Linked DNA regions of Homo sapiens. The protein of the gene in region 1 purifies or fractionates together with the protein of each later gene. This does not show direct contact. Each region holds a gene or a part of one and is shown in the gene's direction. Other genes may lie near its edges. The genes, in order: ZCCHC17, POF1B, EIF3A, RPL22, CSNK2A2 and NOS1AP.

Evidence for each region.
Region 2: the proteins of ZCCHC17 (region 1) and POF1B purify together in Homo sapiens (affinity purification with mass spectrometry; one large-scale study listed by BioGRID and IntAct). This does not show direct contact.
Region 3: the proteins of ZCCHC17 (region 1) and EIF3A purify together in Homo sapiens (affinity purification with mass spectrometry; one large-scale study listed by BioGRID and IntAct). This does not show direct contact.
Region 4: the proteins of ZCCHC17 (region 1) and RPL22 purify together in Homo sapiens (affinity purification with mass spectrometry; 2 studies listed by BioGRID and IntAct, with this or other methods). This does not show direct contact.
Region 5: the proteins of ZCCHC17 (region 1) and CSNK2A2 purify together in Homo sapiens (affinity purification with mass spectrometry; 2 studies listed by BioGRID and IntAct, with this or other methods). This does not show direct contact.
Region 6: the proteins of ZCCHC17 (region 1) and NOS1AP purify together in Homo sapiens (affinity purification with mass spectrometry; 2 studies listed by BioGRID and IntAct, with this or other methods). This does not show direct contact.

The regions. Positions count from the first base shown.
Region 1 is NC_000001.11:31,300,032-31,303,531, forward strand, and holds part of ZCCHC17 (zinc finger CCHC domain-containing protein 17), read left to right. Parts: intron 1-3,500.
Region 2 is NC_000023.11:85,278,666-85,282,165, reverse strand, and holds part of POF1B (protein POF1B), read left to right. Parts: exon of another isoform or gene 1-51; intron 52-2,739; coding exon 2,740-2,745; 3' UTR 2,746-3,500. UniProt on the Homo sapiens protein: Plays a key role in the organization of epithelial monolayers by regulating the actin cytoskeleton. May be involved in ovary development.
Region 3 is NC_000010.11:119,039,318-119,042,817, reverse strand, and holds part of EIF3A (eukaryotic translation initiation factor 3 subunit A), read left to right. Parts: intron 1-45; coding exon 46-824; intron 825-3,500. UniProt on the Homo sapiens protein: RNA-binding component of the eukaryotic translation initiation factor 3 (eIF-3) complex, which is required for several steps in the initiation of protein synthesis.
Region 4 is NC_000001.11:6,187,058-6,189,595, reverse strand, and holds part of RPL22 (large ribosomal subunit protein eL22), read left to right. Parts: intron 1-2,538.
Region 5 is NC_000016.10:58,191,607-58,195,106, reverse strand, and holds part of CSNK2A2 (casein kinase II subunit alpha'), read left to right. Parts: intron 1-3,500.
Region 6 is NC_000001.11:162,352,691-162,356,190, forward strand, and holds part of NOS1AP (carboxyl-terminal PDZ ligand of neuronal nitric oxide synthase protein), read left to right. Parts: intron 1-2,496; coding exon 2,497-2,663; intron 2,664-3,500. UniProt on the Homo sapiens protein: Adapter protein involved in neuronal nitric-oxide (NO) synthesis regulation via its association with nNOS/NOS1. The complex formed with NOS1 and synapsins is necessary for specific NO and synapsin functions at a presynaptic level.

The DNA.
Region 1 (3,500 bases):
CCCCAGACCCTCTTTCTCTTCCTAGCTACTACTTTTGTTTGTTTGTTTTGAGACAGTCTTACTCTGTTGCCCAGGCCGATTGCAGTGGCATGATTATGGCTCACTGTAGCCTCGACCTCCCAGGCTCCAGTGATCCTCCCACCTCAGCCTCTCCAGTAGGTGGGATAACAGGTATGTGCCACCATGCCTGGCTAATTGTTGTATTTTTTATAGAGATAAGGTCTTGCCATGTTGTCCAGGCTGGTCTCAAACTCCTGGCCTCAAGTGATCTTGCTGCCTTGGTCTCCCAAAGTGCTACGATTATAGGCATAAGCCACCATGCCTGGCCCCCAAGCTTCTGCTTTAGCACTTATCACATTGCAGTGTAATTGGTGTTATTTTGTGGGTTAGGTGTTGTTCCTGGAAGTTCCGCCAAAGTCTGTTATTGCAATACATCCCTTTCTGCTTAAGTGGGTTCTGTTGTCTGCAACTGTCCCGGGCTAGGTTAGACATACTGCCAGATAGTTAAATATAAAGACAGAGTTAAAGGGAGTTTAGAGTGTTGTTGGAATGATGATATCTGATATCCCTATCAGATTAGGAGGTCTTTGAGAACAGGGACTGTGTTGAAAAGGGTGGTTTAGGCCGGGTGCTGTGGCTCACTCCTATAATCCCAGCACTTTGGGAGGCCGAGGCAGGTGGATCACCTGAGGTCAGGAGTTCGAGACCATCCTGACCAATATGGTGAAACCCTGTCTCTACTAAAAATATAAAAATCAGCTGGGCATGGTGGTGTGTGCCTGTAATCCCAGCTACTCGGGAGGCTGAGGCAGGAGAATCGCTTGAACCTGGGAGGAGGTTGCAGTGAGCTAAGATCGCGCCATTGCACTCTAGCCTGGGTGACAAGAACAAAACTCTGTCTCAAAAAAAAAAAAAGAAAAAAAAGGGTGGTTTAGTGGCAAGTGTGTGTGGCCCTTGGAATGGCCTAAGATTTGTCTCTTTCTTGCTGTGTTGTTTTGGACAAGTTATTTCATTCCTGTAAAATAGGATTACTTGCTTTGTAGAGGAGTTTTAGGGATTGAAAGCAGGTTTATAAAGTACCTTATATATAAACATCAATCAATAGCATACTGAATTGATGAATTAACAATTTAAATGGGGTAAAATTAAATACTTCACTATTTTAGTAGACAATTTCCATGTGTGTTACACTGTGCTAGGCACTGGAGATTTGGGGAGGAAGGATATGATGATGTGCAAGACAAAGGCATGCTTACAAGAGTTCCACACTCTACAAAGGGAGGAAAAAAATGTCCCTAAAAATGATTTGAATCCCATCCCCATCATTCATATTTTGCAATCTTGAGCGAGTTTACTTAGCTTCTCTTGTGTCCTCATTTTTAAAATGGCAATGATAATTGCCTGTTTTATGGGATAGTCAAGAAGAGAATTATTGAATGTCATGAAGATAAAATTTTAAAAAGAAAAATTAGTTAAGAGAAGTAAAGCTCTTAGATTAATACATGGCAGATATGAAGCACTCAAATATTAGCTATTATAAGACTTTGAAGGGATCTTAGGAATAATTGACTGAAAGTGTAGTGTCGAGTGGTAGAATAAGTGCTGATCCTGGGGTCTTATACCAATGTTGCTAACTGTGAGCAGCCTTTGTCAAATCACTTGGCTTCATTTTCAGTGGCCTAAGAGTAATAGGTTTAATTATTTCCATAATTCCTTTAAGTTTTTACATTTTCTGAGTTCATCTTTTGTGTTTTTCCTGGCATTTTACTATTCCTCTTTCCTGCTTTTGGCTATTTTCTCAACAGGTCCACGACTGGAATTTGAAAGCAAGAAGCATCTATCTTACATGGTCACTCTAGAATTTGGTGGGAGGGAGGAAAGTTGGACCACCAGTTTGACATTTGAAAGTGTCCCGGCCGGGTGCGGTGGTTCACACCTGTAATCCTAACACTTTGGGAGGCCGAGGCGAGCAGATCACTTGAGGTCAGGAGTTTGAGACCAACCTGGCCAACATGGTGAAACCATGTCTCTACTAAAAGTACACAAATTAGCTGGGCATGGTGTTGCATGCCTGTAGTCCCAGCTACTTGGGAGGCAGAGGTGACAGAATCACTTGAACCCGGGAAGTGGAGGTTGCAGTGAGTCGAGATCGCACCACTGCCCTCCAGCCTGGGCAACAGAGCGAGACTCCATCTTAAAAAAAAAGAAAAAAGAAGTGTTCCATCTGTTGATCTGTCCAACATATTAAATGGGACCTAGCTCCTTCTTCTTCTATATCCTTTAGACCAGAATGTGTTCCCCCCTCTTTCTCTACCTGTGCTTGGCATATAGTGAGGCTCAGTTCACTCATTTAAAAAAAACTGAGTACTTGTAGTATACCAGACCCCAGGAACACAAAATCAAATGAGAAATGGTCCTTGGTTTCATGTTTGAATGAATGGATCCAGACGTTGCTCATCCTAGCTCTTCCATGAATGATATCCACATTGATTCCTCTAATGTTGGGACCTAGTTAGTGTTAGAGCTATATTCTACAAAATTTAGATTTAGACCGTGTATTAGCCCATTTTCACACTGCTCTAAAGAACTCCCTGAGACTGGGTAATTATAAAGGAGAAAGGTTTAATTGACTCACAGTTCTGAATTGCTGGGGAGTCCTCAGGAAACTTATAACTCATGGCAGAAGGTGAAGGGGAAGCAAGGCACGTCTTAAGTGGTGTCAGAGGAGAGAGAGAGAGAGCAAGAGAAACTGCCACATTTAAACCATCAGATCTCGTGAAAACTCTGTCACTATCATGAGAACAGACTGTGGGAAACTGCCATGATCCAGTCACCTCCCACTAGGTCCCTCCCCCAACATGTGGGGATTACAGTTCAAGATGAAATTTGGGTGAGGACACAAAGCCAAACCATATTCGATTGTGAATTCTTTTTGAGGTATAGTGCTTAAGAATGCAGGCTCTTGGCCGGGTGCCATGGCTCATGCCTGTAATCTCAGCACTTTGGGAGGCTGAGGTAGGAGGATTGCTTGAGCCAGGAGTTCAAGACCAGACTGGGCAACATAATGAAATCCAGTCTCTACCCCCCCTCAAAAAAAAAAAAAATTAGCCAAGCTCGTTGGTGTGTTTCTGTCCCAGCTACTTGGGAGGCTGAGGCGGGAGGATAGCTTGAGCCCAGGAGGTCAAGGCTGCAGGGAGCCATGTTTGGACCATTGCACTCCGGCCTGGACAACAGAGTGAGACCCTGCCTCAAAACAAAAAACAAAGCAAACAGTGCAGGCTCTGGAGTCATTATTCTGTCTCTGTTCATATCCTAGTAGTTTTAGTTAGCTTACTTTGCTCACAATTCCAGCACAGCTTAAAGATAAACTAAAATTCCTTTAAATTCTTAGGGTTCTAGTCAATTAGTACTCAAGTAACAAAAAAATCTAAATCCAAACAAGCTGGAAAATGATAACAACAAAAATCTTGACCAGGTCAGTAAGGTGACACATTAAATGA
Region 2 (3,500 bases), on another chromosome or scaffold:
ATATATGTACAGCCTTTTAAAATTGAGGTAAAATATCAAATGAACTAAAAACTTTGAGTATTTTTTTCTTTTGAGATTTTCTGTTTCCATTATTGATATACAGTGGGAATTAACAAATTTTGGAAAGATTCATACATGTGGCAATATAATTGATTATTTAAGCTATAATATAAATATAATTTTTGCCCCTCAAAAGGAAGAAGATTAACATTAGTGATATGCTAATTTTATTTATTTTCTTGCCTAGCTCGGTAGTTATTGAATGGGTTCCATTAAAATTTTCCAAAACAGTTTCCCTTTTTCTAAAGCAGGTAGCAAATATCATAGACAATTATGAAGGCAACTGGAAAATGGAGAAGAGGCATGTTTCAATAGAATTTGTCTTGCAATCTTGCATGTGGTACTTATTCCTGTGGATTTTATATATATATATATTATATATATTAGGATTTAGAAAGAAGAGATGTTTCTAGCTTCCTCACTAGACTGTAACATCCTCCAGCCTTAAATCCCACAGTTATAGTGAGGTTGCTGAAGAGTACTTTAAACATCATATACTCCAATATTTACTCTACCTTCTACAACATCCTCCAAAATGGCCAGGTGACATGGACCTTAGCATCTTTCTAAGTGGTCCAATCCATTGCTAAGGGGACTGATTATTGAAACCTTCTTATAAAGGACTGAGAGCTACTTCCCTAAAACTTTTACATATTGCTCTATTAACTTTTAAAGTAATGATCATCAAATAGGGGATATATAGTTGTCCCTCAATATCCATGAGAGATTGGTTCCAGGATCCCCTACAGATATCAAAATCTGTAGATGCTCAAGTCCCTTATCGGCATAATATTTGCATATAACCTATGCACATCTTACTGTATACTTTAAGTCATTTCTAGCTTACAATAACTAATTCAATGTAAATTCTAAGTACGTGTCATACCGTCTTGTTTAGGAGGTAATAACAGTAAAAAAAAAAAAAAGTCTGTACATGTTCAGTACAGAAATGATTTTTTTCCTGAATATTTTCAACCCATCATTGGTGGGGAACCCATGAATACCAAGGGCCAACTATATATTCCCTAGCACAGTTGCTCTCTACAGCAACAATTTTGTACCTTACGGGACATTTAGCAATGTCTAGAGACATTTTTGGTTTTCACAACCAGAGGGGTGGGTGTTATTGGCATCTAGTGGTTAGAGAACTAGGATGCTTCTGAACATACTACGATGTGCAGGACAGTCTCCCATAACAAAGAATTATCCAGCCCCTAATAAGTAGTGTTGAGGTTGAAAAACTCTGCTAACAGAATGCTCTTGGGTTTTTTTCCTAATTATATACTCCTACACTGGTGCAAGAGATTCTAATAGTAAGCCACTGGTAGGGATCATAGGAATGTGTGATATCCTTCTGGTGAAATGAACAGAGAAATGTTTGAGGATTCTAGTTCTCAAATCATACAGATCTGACTTAAAACATTGTGAAAATGACAGCCTTTGACTTCTTATGATAAAATTATCTACCTGTCAAACTACTGAGGTATAAAAGTAGGCAAAACTAAATCTATGGCTATTAAATGAAGAAATGGTTATCCTTGTGGGATGGATACTGATTAAAAGGAAGCATAAGGAGAGATTCAAGGTCTTAATAATGTTCTGTTTCTTTATCTGGGAGATGGTTACATATGCATGTTCGGTTTGGGAAAATTCATTTATTTGAATACTTATAATATGTCCATTTCTTTCTACATGTTTATTGTACTTCAGTAAAAGCCTTAAAATGCTTAAGTGTACCGTGGTGAGCAATAGACAAATATACAAATATCAATCCAGTATTCTGCAGAACCTTTTGAAAAATATTTAAAAATTATGCTTCAGATGTATAGTTAATAAAATTAAACATCTAAACATCTGTTAAATAACTTCTAGAAACATCTTTTGGTTGAACAAGCTCAAATATTTGAGTCAACAAAAAAATTCAAAAAGTTTCTTTAGAGCTGAAGCCCTTCTTTAACTACAATCCAGCCATCAATCTTTTAAGTATGGTTGTTATCATCAATGAAAACAACCAATGTTTAGTAATCCCAAAGTAAAAATAACTGCATTTAAACTCTGAAATGTTGTTTTTGTTAGGTCATTAGTTAGCTGAAAATTACTTACTACTAATTATTAACCCATAGAATTTAAAATTGGCCACTCAAAGATAATTTGATGCCCAAAGTTAAGACTGAGAAGCAATTGCTGCCACTAACCCTAACCACATGTATCCCAGAGGTGGCAATATGAAGACCTGCCAAATAAAGTTTCTACAGAATAGTAGCCACTACTTCTCTCTCCATTAAAAATGTGCAGCAGTAAAAATCAAAATTGATATTTGAAGAATCTATAGATACTGATAGCAAGGTCAGAATATATTTAAATGCATTCACAGATGAAAATCCATATTTATTAAGAGACAATTGGACATATTTAAACTCTAAATATTACTAAGAAGGAAATCTACTTAATTGTCCTTCACTCTTGCTTAAAGTCATTTGAAACATACCATGAGTAAAGTAAGAAAGACAAATCATTGTTTCATTGAATATATATATATAAAAGAGTGCCACAAAAGTGCAATACATGTCCTTTGGTTTTATACATACCAATTTAAATAATTTTCCATAACTTTGCATATAGTAACAATGACTTTAATTATGAACCAGTTGTAAGATAACCTTTTTTTTTCTTTTCTAGCCATGAATGGATCCACTTTAAAGTATTACAACTCAAAGCCGTTTTTTTTTTGTGTGTGTGTCTCTGCATTAGTACTTTGTTATTTTTCCATCACTAAAGGCCAATCAGAATTTGGAACCATGCTGCTACCCAAGAAATCTAATGGAATGAATTAGTTCTGTAGATGACAATTTCTTCACCCATTTATGAGACCTAAATCTTTTCCATAACACTCATGTATTCAGTATAACAACATACTAACTGAAAGAGGGACCTGATTGTTTAAAGTTTGATTGCAGACACTGTAGAACATAACTCATTATGTTTCAGATAAGGTAACTCCTAGATATCAAACTAATTTGTTGGGGTAGAGATTTTACAAGTCATGCCATTAGAAGATTTTCTCTGATATTATATGTGCAGTTCAGTTACAAGATGAAATCATGTTTTTTTAACAAAAGAGATAAAATACAATTGAAGCAAAAAATAACAGCTAGTATATAATATATACAGTCTGTATTTGCTTTTCACAGTAGGCCTGATGACTAAAAGATATGCTTTATTACACGCTATTTTCACCTCTTGAAAGTCAAAGGTGATGATTAATTTCATTTAGCAGGGAAGTGGAATAATATCTTTTGAAATAACTAAGTCCACTAAATTATACAGTATGCTATTCTGGTTCTAAGTACATATTAGTCCCTTGGCAAATCTGTTCTTTCAAAGCATACCTTCCCCAAATGAGCCTACCTACTTCTTAAAAAACATATAACACAATGTGG
Region 3 (3,500 bases), on another chromosome or scaffold:
GCTTTTTTATTTTATATATTTTTAATTGTTCTTGTTGCTGTGTAGGGAGTGGAGACGTGGAGAAGGGCGAGATGAGGACAGGTCTCATAGAAGAGATGAAGAGCGGCCCCGGCGTCTGGGGGATGATGAAGATAGAGAGCCCTCTCTTAGACCAGACGATGATCGGGTTCCCCGGCGTGGCATGGATGATGACAGAGGCCCTAGACGTGGTCCTGAGGAAGATAGGTTCTCTCGTCGTGGGGCAGACGATGACCGGCCTTCCTGGCGTAACACAGATGATGACAGGCCTCCCAGACGAATTGCCGATGAAGACAGGGGAAACTGGCGTCATGCGGATGATGACAGACCACCTAGACGAGGACTGGATGAGGACAGAGGAAGCTGGCGAACAGCTGATGAGGACAGAGGACCAAGACGTGGGATGGATGATGACCGGGGGCCGAGGCGAGGAGGCGCTGATGATGAGCGATCATCCTGGCGTAATGCTGATGATGACCGGGGTCCCAGGCGAGGGTTGGATGATGATCGGGGTCCCAGGCGAGGCATGGATGATGACCGGGGTCCCAGGCGAGGCATGGATGATGACCGGGGTCCCAGGCGAGGCATGGATGATGACCGGGGTCCCAGGCGAGGGTTGGATGATGATCGAGGACCTTGGAGGAACGCCGATGATGACAGAATTCCCAGGCGTGGTGCAGAGGATGACAGGGGCCCTTGGAGAAACATGGATGATGATCGCCTTTCAAGACGTGCTGATGATGATCGGTTTCCCAGACGGGGTGATGACTCAAGACCTGGTCCTTGGAGACCATTAGTCAAGCCAGGTAAAATTCTATTTCCTAGAATATGCTTAAGTGTTCACCTGTAAAAGTGAAATTCTGATGGATAAATATCAGGGCTGTATTGTTATTTTCCAGATAAACTGGTCTTTCATCTTTCCTTCAGTATCATTTGCAGTGACTTCGCTGTCAAAAGTTTGCCTTCAGAATACCACCATCCAAAACATAAATAACCCAACCCCTCTCTTCTTTAGTGATGTGCTCTTTGTTTTCCTTCTGCTTCGATGACTGCTTCTTTGAAGGCTCTTCCTGTACTCATGCTTTCAGTATTGGTGTATTTTTCAGGTTTTACTGGGAACCAGCCTCCTTTTAAAAATAAATAATTGAAACCAAAATGTACTTTATATATTTATTTTTGCCAACTGAGAGATTATGCAAGGAGGAACTCATTTTACTTTACTTTTTTTGAGACAGGGTCTTGCTCTGTTGCACAGGCTGGAATGCAGTGGTGCAGTCATGGCTCACTGCAACCTTGACCTCCCGGACCCTAGGGAGCCTCCCACTTCAGCCTTCTGAGTAGCTAGGACTACAGGCGCATGCCACCACACCCTGCTAATATTTTATTTTTTGGAGAGACGGGGTTTCGCTATGTTGCCCAGGCTGGTCTCAAACTCCTGGGCCCAAGTTATCCTTCTGCCTCTCCCTCCCAAAGTGAAGTGCTGGGATAACGGGTGTGAGGCGCTGCGCCCAGCCTCATTTTTTTTCTTAGTCCTGGGCCTGCTTATTGTTTCACACTTTATTATTCGTGAGCAGTTGTATACATGTTTGTGACATGCGTCTATTACCATTTTTTTTCTTTTTGAGGTGGAGTCTTGCTCTGTCTCCCAGGCTGGAGTGCAGTGGTATGATCTCAGCTCACTGCAACCTCTGCCTCCCAGGTTCAAGCAATTCTCCTGCCTCAGCTTCCCAAGTAGCTGGGACTACAGGCACATGCCACCATGCATGGCTAATTTTTTTTTTTTTTTTTTTTTTTGGAGACGGAGTCTCGCTCTGTCATCTGGCTGGAGTGCAGTGGCGCGATCTCCCCTCACTGCAAGTTCTGCCTCCCAGGTTCATGCCCTTCTCCTGCCTCAGCCTCCTGAGTAGCTGGGACAACAGGTGCCTACCACTATGCCTGGCTAATTTTTTGTATTTTTAGTAGAGATGGGGTTTCACCATGGTAGCCAGGATGGTCTCGATCTCCTGACCTCTTGATCCGCCTGCCTCAGCCTCCCAAAGTGCTGGGATTACAGGCATGAGCCACCACGCCCGGCCATTTTTTTGTATTTTTAATAGAGATGGGGTTTCACCATGTTGGCCAGGCTGCTCTCGAACTCCTGACCTCAAGTGATCCACCCACCTCGGCCTCCCAAAGTGCTAGGATTACAGGCGTGAGCCACTGCCCCGGCCAGTTTTCTCTAGGTAATTTCTGCGTACTGCACACAGGTGACAGCTGCTTACTGCATATAGCACATCTCCACTTGGTAGTCTTACTGAATGTCTAACACAGCCTATCCAAAACTGGACTCATTACCATCACATACACGTGCACTTGTTCACGCCCACCCATCCCTCTGATTCTCTTCAGGGGCATCACTGTCCATCTAACTGTCTGAGCTAGGATTCTGGGAGTTGTTTTGTCTCTGTTTCATCCTTTATGTTAAATCTTTAGTTCAGTTCTGCCTTTTTGATGTTCCTGAAATCCACCCTCCTCTCCATTCCCATTGCTTGTACTTGGTCCTGGGTCAGCATCATTTTCCTCACCCGCTAACTGGTTTTTGCTGCCTCTCTTACTCCCAGTTTTAATTTTGGGTGTCAGGGAAATAACCAGAGCAGTTGTTGTAAGTGCAGATCTAAGTGAGCTGCTTCCTTGCTTTCCCCAGTTGTTTCTGTTGCCTACTTCGTCTCTTCTAGTCTCACTTCATTCTGCTGTTCGGCTGTTACCTTGTGTAAGACATTTAATTTTTCTTTTCCTCATGTTAAATGGGGTAACAGTATAGCAGATTCTTACTAATTTGCTAATTATATTTTATACAGTTGCCATGAATACTGAACTCATGTTCCTAGGGTAAATACAAGGTTAGGTTCTTGTAAGCTTCTAGTCATGATATTTTTGTCAACCAATCAATACATAAAATGTCTTTTATGTGTTTGTGTTTAAAGACTCCCTATTTCTGATATGTTGTTGATTCATTACCATTGAATTCATGGTCAACAGCATTATAACTCATTCATGAACAAAGCTTATCTAATACATGTATTTTCTCCTTAAGGCATATCATAGCCACCTTGTGCTTGGGGCCACTAAACAGCATTTGTTTTTTCTCTTTTTGAGGTGGGGCCTCACTGTCTCCCAGGCTGGAGTGCAGTGGCGTGATCTCAGATCACCGCAACCTCTGCCTCCTGGGCTCAAGAGATCCTACCACATCAGCCTCCTGAGTAGTAGACTATAGGTGCACACCACCAAGCCCAGCTAATTTTTGTATTTTTTTGTAGAGATGTGGTTTTGCCATGTTGCCCAGGCTGGTCTTGAACTCCTGGGCTCCAGGGATCCACCCTCCTCAGCCTCCCAAATTCCTGAGATTACAGGCATGAGCCACCACGCCTGGCCACTAGACAGCATTTTAGCACTACACTTGGAGGCCATTTTAAACAGTGAGGTCACCAGCAAATTTACATCTC
Region 4 (2,538 bases), about 25 Mb from region 1:
CAGTGTACTATTAGGGATTTTTTTTTTTCCTTTTTTTTAGATAGGGTCTTACTCTGTCACCAAGGCTGGAGAGCAGTGGGGTGATCATAGCTCACTCTAGCCTCCATCTCCTGGCTCAAACAGTCCTACCTCAGCCTCCCAAATAGCTGGGACTACACGAGTGCCCCACCATGTCCGGCTATGTCAGGGAACATTTCAACCACCTGAAATTTTGAATTAACCTCATCTGAATACAATATGGTGGAAATAATTGACAAAAGTATACTTTTTAGATGGAATGACCAAATTGATTTATCTTTGCTTAGCAAAAAGTGGACAGTTGAATTGAGATCTTCACACTTTGTGGCGATTGCTTTGTTGGTGTGGAGATTGCTTTGTTGGTGTGGAGATTGCTTTGTTGGTGTGGAGATTGCTTTGTTGGTGTGGAGCACTGTCACAGTGCTCCTTTTTTGGAGATGGTGAGTCTGTTGGTTCATGACATTTGGGTCCTGTGAATATGCCAGGGATCCATGCTGAGCGCGGTGGCTCACGCCTGTAATCCCAGCACTTTGGGAGGCCCAGACGGGTGGATGACCTGAGGTCGGGAGTTCCAGACCAGCCTGACCAACATGGAGAAACCCCGTCTCTTACTAAAAATACAAAATTAGCTGGGCGTGGTGGCACATGCCTGTAATCCCAGCTACTCGGGAGGCTGAGGCAGGAGAATTGCTTGAACCCGGGAGACGGAGGTTGAGGTGAGCCGGAGATCGTGCCATTCCAGCCTGGGCAACAAGAGCGAAACTCCGTCTCAAAAAAAAAAAAAATGCCAGGGATCTCTCTGAGCATCTCATGTAATCCTTGCTATGGTCTGAAGAGATGGTTAGTAGCAGGGATCCCCTTTCACTGTGGGAGAAACAGCTTGGGTAGATGAATTGGCTCTGCTGTGGGTTTGTGTGTTGTGAAATTCCCTCTTTATGGCTTGGGAAGATTCGGAATAGCCTCAGGGCCACGGAAGCAAGCCGGTGAGAGAGCTGCCAAGACTGTGGTGCACTTCATCTTTTTTTTTTTTAATTAAAAAAAAAAATGTTGTGTAGAGACAGGGTCTTGCTATGTTGCCTAGGCTGGTCTCGAACTCCTAGATTCAAGGGATCCTCTCACCTTGGCCTCACAAAGTGTTGGGATTACAGGCGTGAGCCACTGTGCCCAGCCCTTAGGTCATCTTTATGTAGTTAGGGTGTTGGGCACAAAAGCCAGTTTTTGCCTTTCCATAAAGAATGAGTGTTTTGGCTGGTCGCAGTGGCTCACAGCTATAATCCCAGCACTTCGGGAGGCTGAGGTGGGCAGACACTTGAGGCCAGGAGTTCGAGACCAGACTGGCCAATATGGCAAAACCCCCATCTCTACTGAAATTACAAAAATTAGCTGGACATGGTGTTATACACCTGTAATCCCAGCTACATGGGAGACTGAGGCATGAGAATTGCTTGAATCCTGGAGGCAGAGGTTGCAGTGAGCCTGGGCCACAGAAGGAGATTCTGTCTAAAAAAATAAATAAAAGAGTTTTTAAATGATCCCTGTTGTGGTGAGTGTTTAGCTCTCACCTGGCTAAAGCAGCAATTGGGCAGGCTGACTGAAAGGCTTTGTGCTCTCTGGGCGTGAGCGCAGTGGCAGGGTGGCATTCTGTCCCTGTGTGTTGGGTGGTGAGCAGGAGCGAGTGTGTGCACACCCCTAAGAAGCAGTCCTCATCATCCAGACAACCTCAAAAGGGGGTTTGACTCCGTGAGGTGATGTGTGCGCAGCGCTTACAGCTCTTTGGAAACCCACTATTTTCTGCATAAAAGGTATTGAGGTTGCGTACTTAACTGTAAATTTCTATCATGTTATCTTTCTCCAGTGGTCACTAAAAACCATGTTATAGGTGTTTGCTGCATTTTCATGGACAACTGGTACATCTACTTATCTACTTATCTGCTCTTGTTTTTTTTTTTTGTTTTTTTTTTTTTGAGATGGAGTCTTGCTCTGTCGCCCAGGCTGGAGTGCAATGGCGCCATCTCGGCTCACTGCAGCCTCTGCCTCCCGGGTTCAAGCGATTCTCTTACCTCAGCCTCCTGACTAGCTGGGACTACAGGCGCCCAGCACGACGTCTGGCTAATTTTTTGTATTTTTAGTAGAGATAGGGTTGCATCGTGTTAGCCAGGATGGTCTCCGTTTCCTGACCTCATGATCCGCCTGCCTCAGCCCTCCAAAATGCTGGGATTACAGGTGTGAGCCAGTGCCCCTGGCCTAGTTTTTTTTCTTTTTTCTTTTTTTGGAGGCAGTCTTGCTCTGTCACCCAGGCTGGAATACAGTGGTACAATCTTAGCTCACTACACCCTCCGCCTCCTGGATTCAAGGGATCCTCATGCCTCAGCCTCCCGAGTAGCTGGGATTACAGGCGTGCACCACCACGCCCAGCTAATTTTTTTATTTTTAGTAGAGATGGGGTTTCACCATGTTGTTCAGGCTGGTCTCGAACTCCTGACCTCAAGTGATCTGCCTGCCTTGGCCTCCCAAAGCGCT
Region 5 (3,500 bases), on another chromosome or scaffold:
CTTCAAATCTAAGAAATAAGCAAAACGTAAATTGAAATTAGGAATATCCATATTCCACTGCTGTATATTCAGAAGAATGAATTGCTGACTCTAAAGCAATTCCAGAAAAATGTCTGAACTTTTGTGCTATGGCAGCATTTTTAGAATAAGTGTATGATTTTCTGTGGTGCTTTTTTTTTTTTAAAGGAACAGCATTCAGGTGTGTGTATAAATACCAGCATGTTCATTTAGGAGAGCATCGCATTGCTGCTTCATCATCCAAAGAGCTTTATAGGCTCTAGCTTTCCCCCTACTTTAAAGATTCTTGGCGTATGTTAGGAAACCCAGTATGTAAGCTGCTGCAGGTTATCTTTACAAATGGGAGACCTAGGCACAAAGAAACTTACCTAATGTCATTATGTTGAATGACCATTAGCCAGAACTCCTGTTTCCTATTTCTTCATATCTCTTACTGTTCATTTTAGCACTGGATTGTAGGATCTGAACGTTGAGCACAGAAACAGGTACCAGTGTCCTGGAATCAGACTTGGGAGGCCCCTAGTTAATGAAATGTTTCTTGTTTCTTCTTGATGTTGTTTGTTTTCACAGTGCAGCCTAAACCACTAGTGAAAATTAGACTCACTTCTTTATGTTTTTTAAAGCCCGGTGGCATTTCTATCCAGATTTTGTTCCTGTCTGAAGGATGGGGTAATATATCACTAATGGCATTATTGTGGTTTTGTTGTTTTGTGAATTAAAAGTATTACTTTTTAAAAAGAACAGGGTAACAAGGTCTTTAGCCAAAGTTGTGTTTCTTTATTCAAATAAGTTGAAGTTATGACTAATAGCTACTATTGTGGTGCTTGGTCATAGGAAATTAGGTCCTTAACAGACTACCAGCTCCTCATAACTTGGAAGAATCTAGAACAGCCTTCCTTTTTGTAAAAGCCTGCTGTATTTTAGCTGCAGGATTGTATTATGCACATAGTGACCAAGATAGAGGGTGGCTTTCTTGAGGACAAGTGGTCTTACTTTTGTAGTCAGTAACGTTTCGTATCAGTTCTTTGCAATATATGTGAGAATGGGTGGATGATGAGTGACTACAGAGGAATTTTATATCATTTAATTTGCATTAGTGGATTTCCAGGTATTGATCAAAAATGAGCTGCTAAAAAGTTTTAGGAATTTAGAAACTGGTGAGCAAAATTTTACTGTCTATCCCCAAGTGGTATTCTGTGGCTAAAATCTTAAAACTTTCCAATCAATAGAGAGGTTGTATCTTTTTTTGACAAATTGTTTTGAGGAGAAAAGAGAAAAAGGAGGAGGAAAATGGTAAGCGTTTATATGGCAGGGCAGAAAGCTACATTAGTGCCAAAAGTTTCATCTTTTGATTTTGAAAAATCAGTTCTTCATTTCCTTTGTAGTACCTCTTAGAAAAGTGTACACAGAAGTAAAAGTGGCCACCTTTGACAACTTTTAGCATTTTATGAATACTGCCTGTGTGTGTAGATTTCAGTACTTCTTGGGGTCCTTGGGATCTTTCAAATTAAACTGCTATTTCTTGAATAAAAGTTAAGAGCAACACTATTTTTAAAAAACAGCATTTTGAACCAGTGCAAAATGACTTGGAAATTCCCATATAAGGCTTCCTCTTAGAGGTCTTATTTTATAAACAGATTGACTATCCATTTTCCCCTAGATATTAATTATTTAGCTTTAAACAAAGGGTGGTGGTATTAAAATTTTGCTCTTTAAGCATGTTTAGCATACTTGCAGATATTTTTTAAGTTCTGTGTTGTCAGTAGGTAGTGTTAAAAGGATGGGCATTGGTTATACATCTTTGTTAGTAGCTTCATCGTGAGCTGGTGATCTTTATATTATATCAGAATGGTGCTTTCCTCTTTATTTCCTCTTTATTTCTCCTGTGGTAGGTTTTTTACCCTCCTAAATTTAGGCATGTGTATGAAGACATCTTCCTGAAACAACACATTAGTGGTATTTATCTAAGTTTTTGGTACATTCTGATTTTCACTAATGTCTCATGGTATAAAAGTAGTGCAAACAGTATCACTAAAGTATTGCTAACATTAAAAATAATGTTAAAAATTATATGTGAACTAGGCCGTTTCCAGCATTGTACTGGGGAGTCACAGATTAAGAGTGTAGTTAACCTGTGTCAAACAGAATCGCAGAATGCGGGCACTTAGAAACCTAGAAACCATTAGAACCCAGGCCCTTTTTACAAATCAACCAAGACCCAGAGAAAGGATGTATATGCTCAGCGTCATGTAGTCAGGGGGTGGAAGCACTCGGTGTAGGACCTTGTGTACCTGTCATGAAGTCTTGGTAGATGCGAGGAGCATAATTAGGACATTAGCTGGATGTTTGACTTTGTGATGTCCTGATCTGTACTGGAAGAATTGAGGAACACTCACCAGGAGTCAAATGAAGTTAATTCGTTTCTAATGATTTTTGGAGTTATTTTTCTCAAAGGAAGTGTTTGACTTTGGTAAGTTGCTAGTTGAAGTGTGGAATCCAAGAGTCCTCGAGGGCTATAGGGACCCAGGCAGGCGTTCTCTATGATTAGTATCCACAGCAGCATGTTTAATGCTTCAATGAAATGCTGCTTTATTCTCTTGAAGCCTCAGTAAATAGTGTTTTTATGGTTTTTTTTTTTTTTAACCCATAGAGTTCCTCCAAGTCTCAGCATGATCACTTGGCAGATTTCGGGATTAATAGTTTAATAGTTTTATCCCTTTAATATATGAGTTTATTTGAGAGCAAACCACATGTGAAAAGAATATCTTGATATAGTGTGCCCATTTTCATGTATAAAGCAGGGCTCCAGATAGTTTCTAGAGTTTAATTTCAGGATCTACCATCTCATCATCAGGGTGGTGTAGTGTAGGAAGTGCTGTAAATGAGAGGGCAGAAGGCTTGAGTTCCAGAACTAGTTTCTTCATTGATACCCACTTGACTGTTTTCTCATCTATGAAATAAGCATACATTTCCTGCTTAAGTCACAGGATTGTTAGGAAAGTCAGATAAACTATAGATAGATGGGTAGAGAGATTGATTGTCATGTTTTAGTAATCTACAAAATGCTTTTCTTTCCTGAGAGAGTATGGCCTAGGAAGTGGTCTGCCTGGTTTCAGGTGTTAGCTCCAACTGTAGACGCTCTGTGACGTCAAACAGTTACTTAAGTTCTCTGTGCCTTGGTGTCCTTCCTCAAGTAAAACTGTTAATAGTGCTCATCTAAGACGGTTAAATGTGCTTAAAACAGTGCCTGGCCTGAGAGATCAATAAAGTATAGTAGTAATAACAATATTACATTTGGGTCATGCGAGTGATGTTAGAGGCAGAACCAATAGTAGAAAGGGTTGTAGTGTTCTCCTAATGAGATTCAAAGGGTCTGCTCTATGCCTTGCCTTTAAAAAAAAATTGTGTTAAAATACATGTAACATAGGCTAGGCGCGGTGCCTCACGCCTGTAATCCCAGCCCTTTGGTAGGCCGAGGTGGG
Region 6 (3,500 bases), about 130 Mb from region 1:
AAGAGAGGGATCTCCTACATCGCTTCTTATAAGGGCATGAATCCCATCATGAGGACTGCATTCTCATGATCTAATTACCTCCCAAAAGCTCATCTCCAAGTGCTATTACATTGGGAGCTAAGGCTTCGACATATGAACACCAACATTCAGTCCATAACATACCCAACAGCCTAATAGGTATCCCTACTTGACTGTTACACAGACTCTTACAATGTCAACAGGTTTAAAACTGAACTCATCTTCTTACCTGCAATCCTGCTTCTCCTGGATTTTTCCTATAGGATGCCATTCTCCATTCAGTCACCTGAATCAGATATTTTAAGACTCATCCTGCACATATCCCCACCCCCGCCCCCACCACAGACAAGCAAACCCTGTGCTTTCTGCCCCCTGACGATCCTTCGAATCCATCTCTTCTCCATGTTATTGCCATTGTCTTCACTCAAGCCCTCATATTTTCCACCTAGAGTATCACTTTCTCTCATTGCTGCTGGATCTATCCTCCATACTATATCTAGAGTGAAATTTTGAAGGATGAAAATGTTTTGGTATTACTTGCTTTCAGTCCCTCAAGATAAAATGCTGACTCGTCCTGGTCAGGTCCCTCCCTACGGGACCACTTGCATTGCCTGACATGCCGTGGACTTCCTGCCTCTGTGCCTCTCTGCCCCTGCCCCCGCGCCCGGCCAAACCTGACAAATTTTCTGATTCCACCTGGGCTTCTGGCGAGGCCCTGTCCAAACCCTCTGTGTCTGGGGCTTCTTAGTTCTTGTTATTAGGATCTCCAGGGATGGGAAGTAGATAAGCAGCCTTCTCCTGCAGCCTGTTCTCCTGTTTTGCTACCCTGTCACTACATTACTTACTTTGTCAGTATTTATGGAACACTTTCTCTGTGCCAGAGAAACATTTTTAGGAAACATGAATGAGACACAGCCTGGCCTCAAGTCTGTAAGGGAAGACTGATGGCCAGGCACATCCAATATCATGTGCTAAGTGCACAGAACACTGCAGTAGCCCAGCTTCTCCTGATCACTGATAGAAATTTCACCCTGCTTTTTCCTGTACAGGCATGGAGAACCAAACGCTTAGTTCCCAGCACCACCCACCTACCGACCCTCCATCTCTCAGGCTAAGCACCCAGCCATCAAGACGGTCACTTCCAGGTGCAGGCTGTGGTAGAAAGCAGGCTGCTCCCTGTGCTCCCCGCCTACTGGCTGACCAAGGGGCAGAAGAGCTTCCCCTTCCCTGCCCCCACTAGCTGCAGTCAGAACCATCTTTTCTGTTAAACGCCTTTGCAGCCCTCCACAGGACTGTCTCCTCAGCTCCTGGAGTAGCCAGGAAGAAAACCAAGCCCACTGTTTACTTTCTAAATGCCAGGCTTGTTTCCCTTGATGACTTGTGTAGGTTTGCATAGGAAAACTTCTTAGAACAATTTGTTCTACAAGGCAAGCACTCAAATGGCCAAGGCCTGGTTGCCTGGGCTAGCTTCAGCACTGGGGCATCAGCTCTGTGTCTCCTGCTTTACATCCACCTGTTCCATTTTATAATTGGTGCGTGGTCTCTGAAAACTCATGAGAAATCTTATTTAAAGACGGCAGTAATTAACCTAATTGCAAATATAGAAAATGAAAATATTTCCTATGAAATGCCCAGGAGTTGTCAGATGTTTTTACAGAATCCCAGAAATAGGATCAAGGAAGGAAGATAAGTAGGAAATAGCAGGGCTTTCATACATTGGTATTAAGCAGTATGCTGTGCCTGTGGTTAAATATTAAGTAAAGACATGGCCATTGTCTTCAGTGGAAAGGAAGAAATGTGGGAAGTAGAAAAATTAGATAAGGAAGCATGGAAAAGCAGCCACCCCATCTCTCTCCTCCTCCCCGTGCCACTTCCTGCAGGCGTCTTCCTGGCTTCTGCTGTTGGTGAGAGGATCAGGCTCTGAGGGCTGGGAGATTGATACTGTGTTAAAATGCAGCCTCACATCTCCCTGCCTTATTCCTCAGTCATGGAACCCTACCTGTCCATCTAACTGAGCTTCTAATTCTGTAGTTAAAGAAACATGGCCCAGAGAGTGAGGGGATTTGCTTCTTGTCCAGCAGTTTATTGGAGGCCCAACCTCCTCATTTCTGGACCCCCGGGCCAGGGCCCTTTCCCTTGACTGCTTCCGTTCCTGAGCTGCGATGACATGGAGATGATCAGCATCCCCTTCTTCCAGTGTACCTTGTCAATATATTCCTGTGAACCTGGCAAAACTTTTACATCCAGGCTTGAGGAAGTATTGCCTTTTTTTCTGGACTTTGAAAAGATACTAAGATGAGAACATCTTACTGGGCTGGAAATGCACTTTAACGTACTTGAGTGAAAAGATGTGTGAAAATGTTACAAAGCCAGTGGCATCCCTAGGCTCAACATGCCTGAAAGCTAAAGTATTAGGAAAGGAGGACTTTGTTCTCGGTGTTTTCATTCTCTTCCCTCCCTCCCCTGTTGTTCCTGCAGGCCGCCAGCTCACTGGAGCCGAGAGGGCCTCCACGGCCACTGCAGAGGAGACTGACATCGATGCGGTGGAGGTCCCACTTCCAGGGAATGATGTCCTGGAATTCAGCCGAGGTGTGACTGATCTAGATGCTGTAGGGAAGGAAGGAGGCTCTCACACAGGCTCCAAGGTAGGCAAGAGATGGCCCATCTGTGTGATCTGCACACGTGTGCCCTCAGGTCATCAGTCACTTCCTAGCCCCTGCCAGCTCAGCTTCCGAGTGAGGCACTCCATGGCACAGTGGCGGTGCCAGAGCGCACTTCATTGCCTTTCAGAAGGTCTGACTTCCAGAGGGTCTGAACACTAGATGCTGCTGCAGGCCAGGATGCTGTGGAGCTGATTCCTGACACACATCGCCCTCCCCAAATCCCACCAATATTTGGTCTCCTACTCCCTGGCACCCTCTTCCCTTAACAGCATCTCATCTTTGCACAGTATTTTGCAAGGCTCACTCTGGCACACACACACACAGACTCCCCTGTGACTTAGCTAGTAGAGCAAAGTCAGTTTGGGCCCGCTCTGCCTGCAGTAGCGGTGGTATACCGTTGGTAATTCCTGTGGATAGCACTTTGGAGTCTGGAAGTTGGCCCACTGGATGTCAGAAACTGAGAGACCACCTTAGTCTTCATCAGCTCTAACCTAACATCATATAGGTGAGATGACTGTGGCATCTGGGGGTTCCTAATGTGATCCAATTAAGAAACTAAGAACTTGAGATCAAATTCCAACCTGAAGCCAAAGCTAATTAAAAATGTTTTAAACCCAGAAGCAAAATTACTGACCAATAGCTCTACCCTTAGATTCCCAGGCGGTTTATATCAGGGCACCTCTCTCTCTTTAACATTCATATCTTATCTCACATGGAGGTTTGGAGGGCAGTTCAGTTCTAAACTAGCTGCCTGACGTTTCCTTTGGAACCAGTTTATCCTCTACAAGTGGAAACAGCCCTGTGTCACTGGGGGCCTTC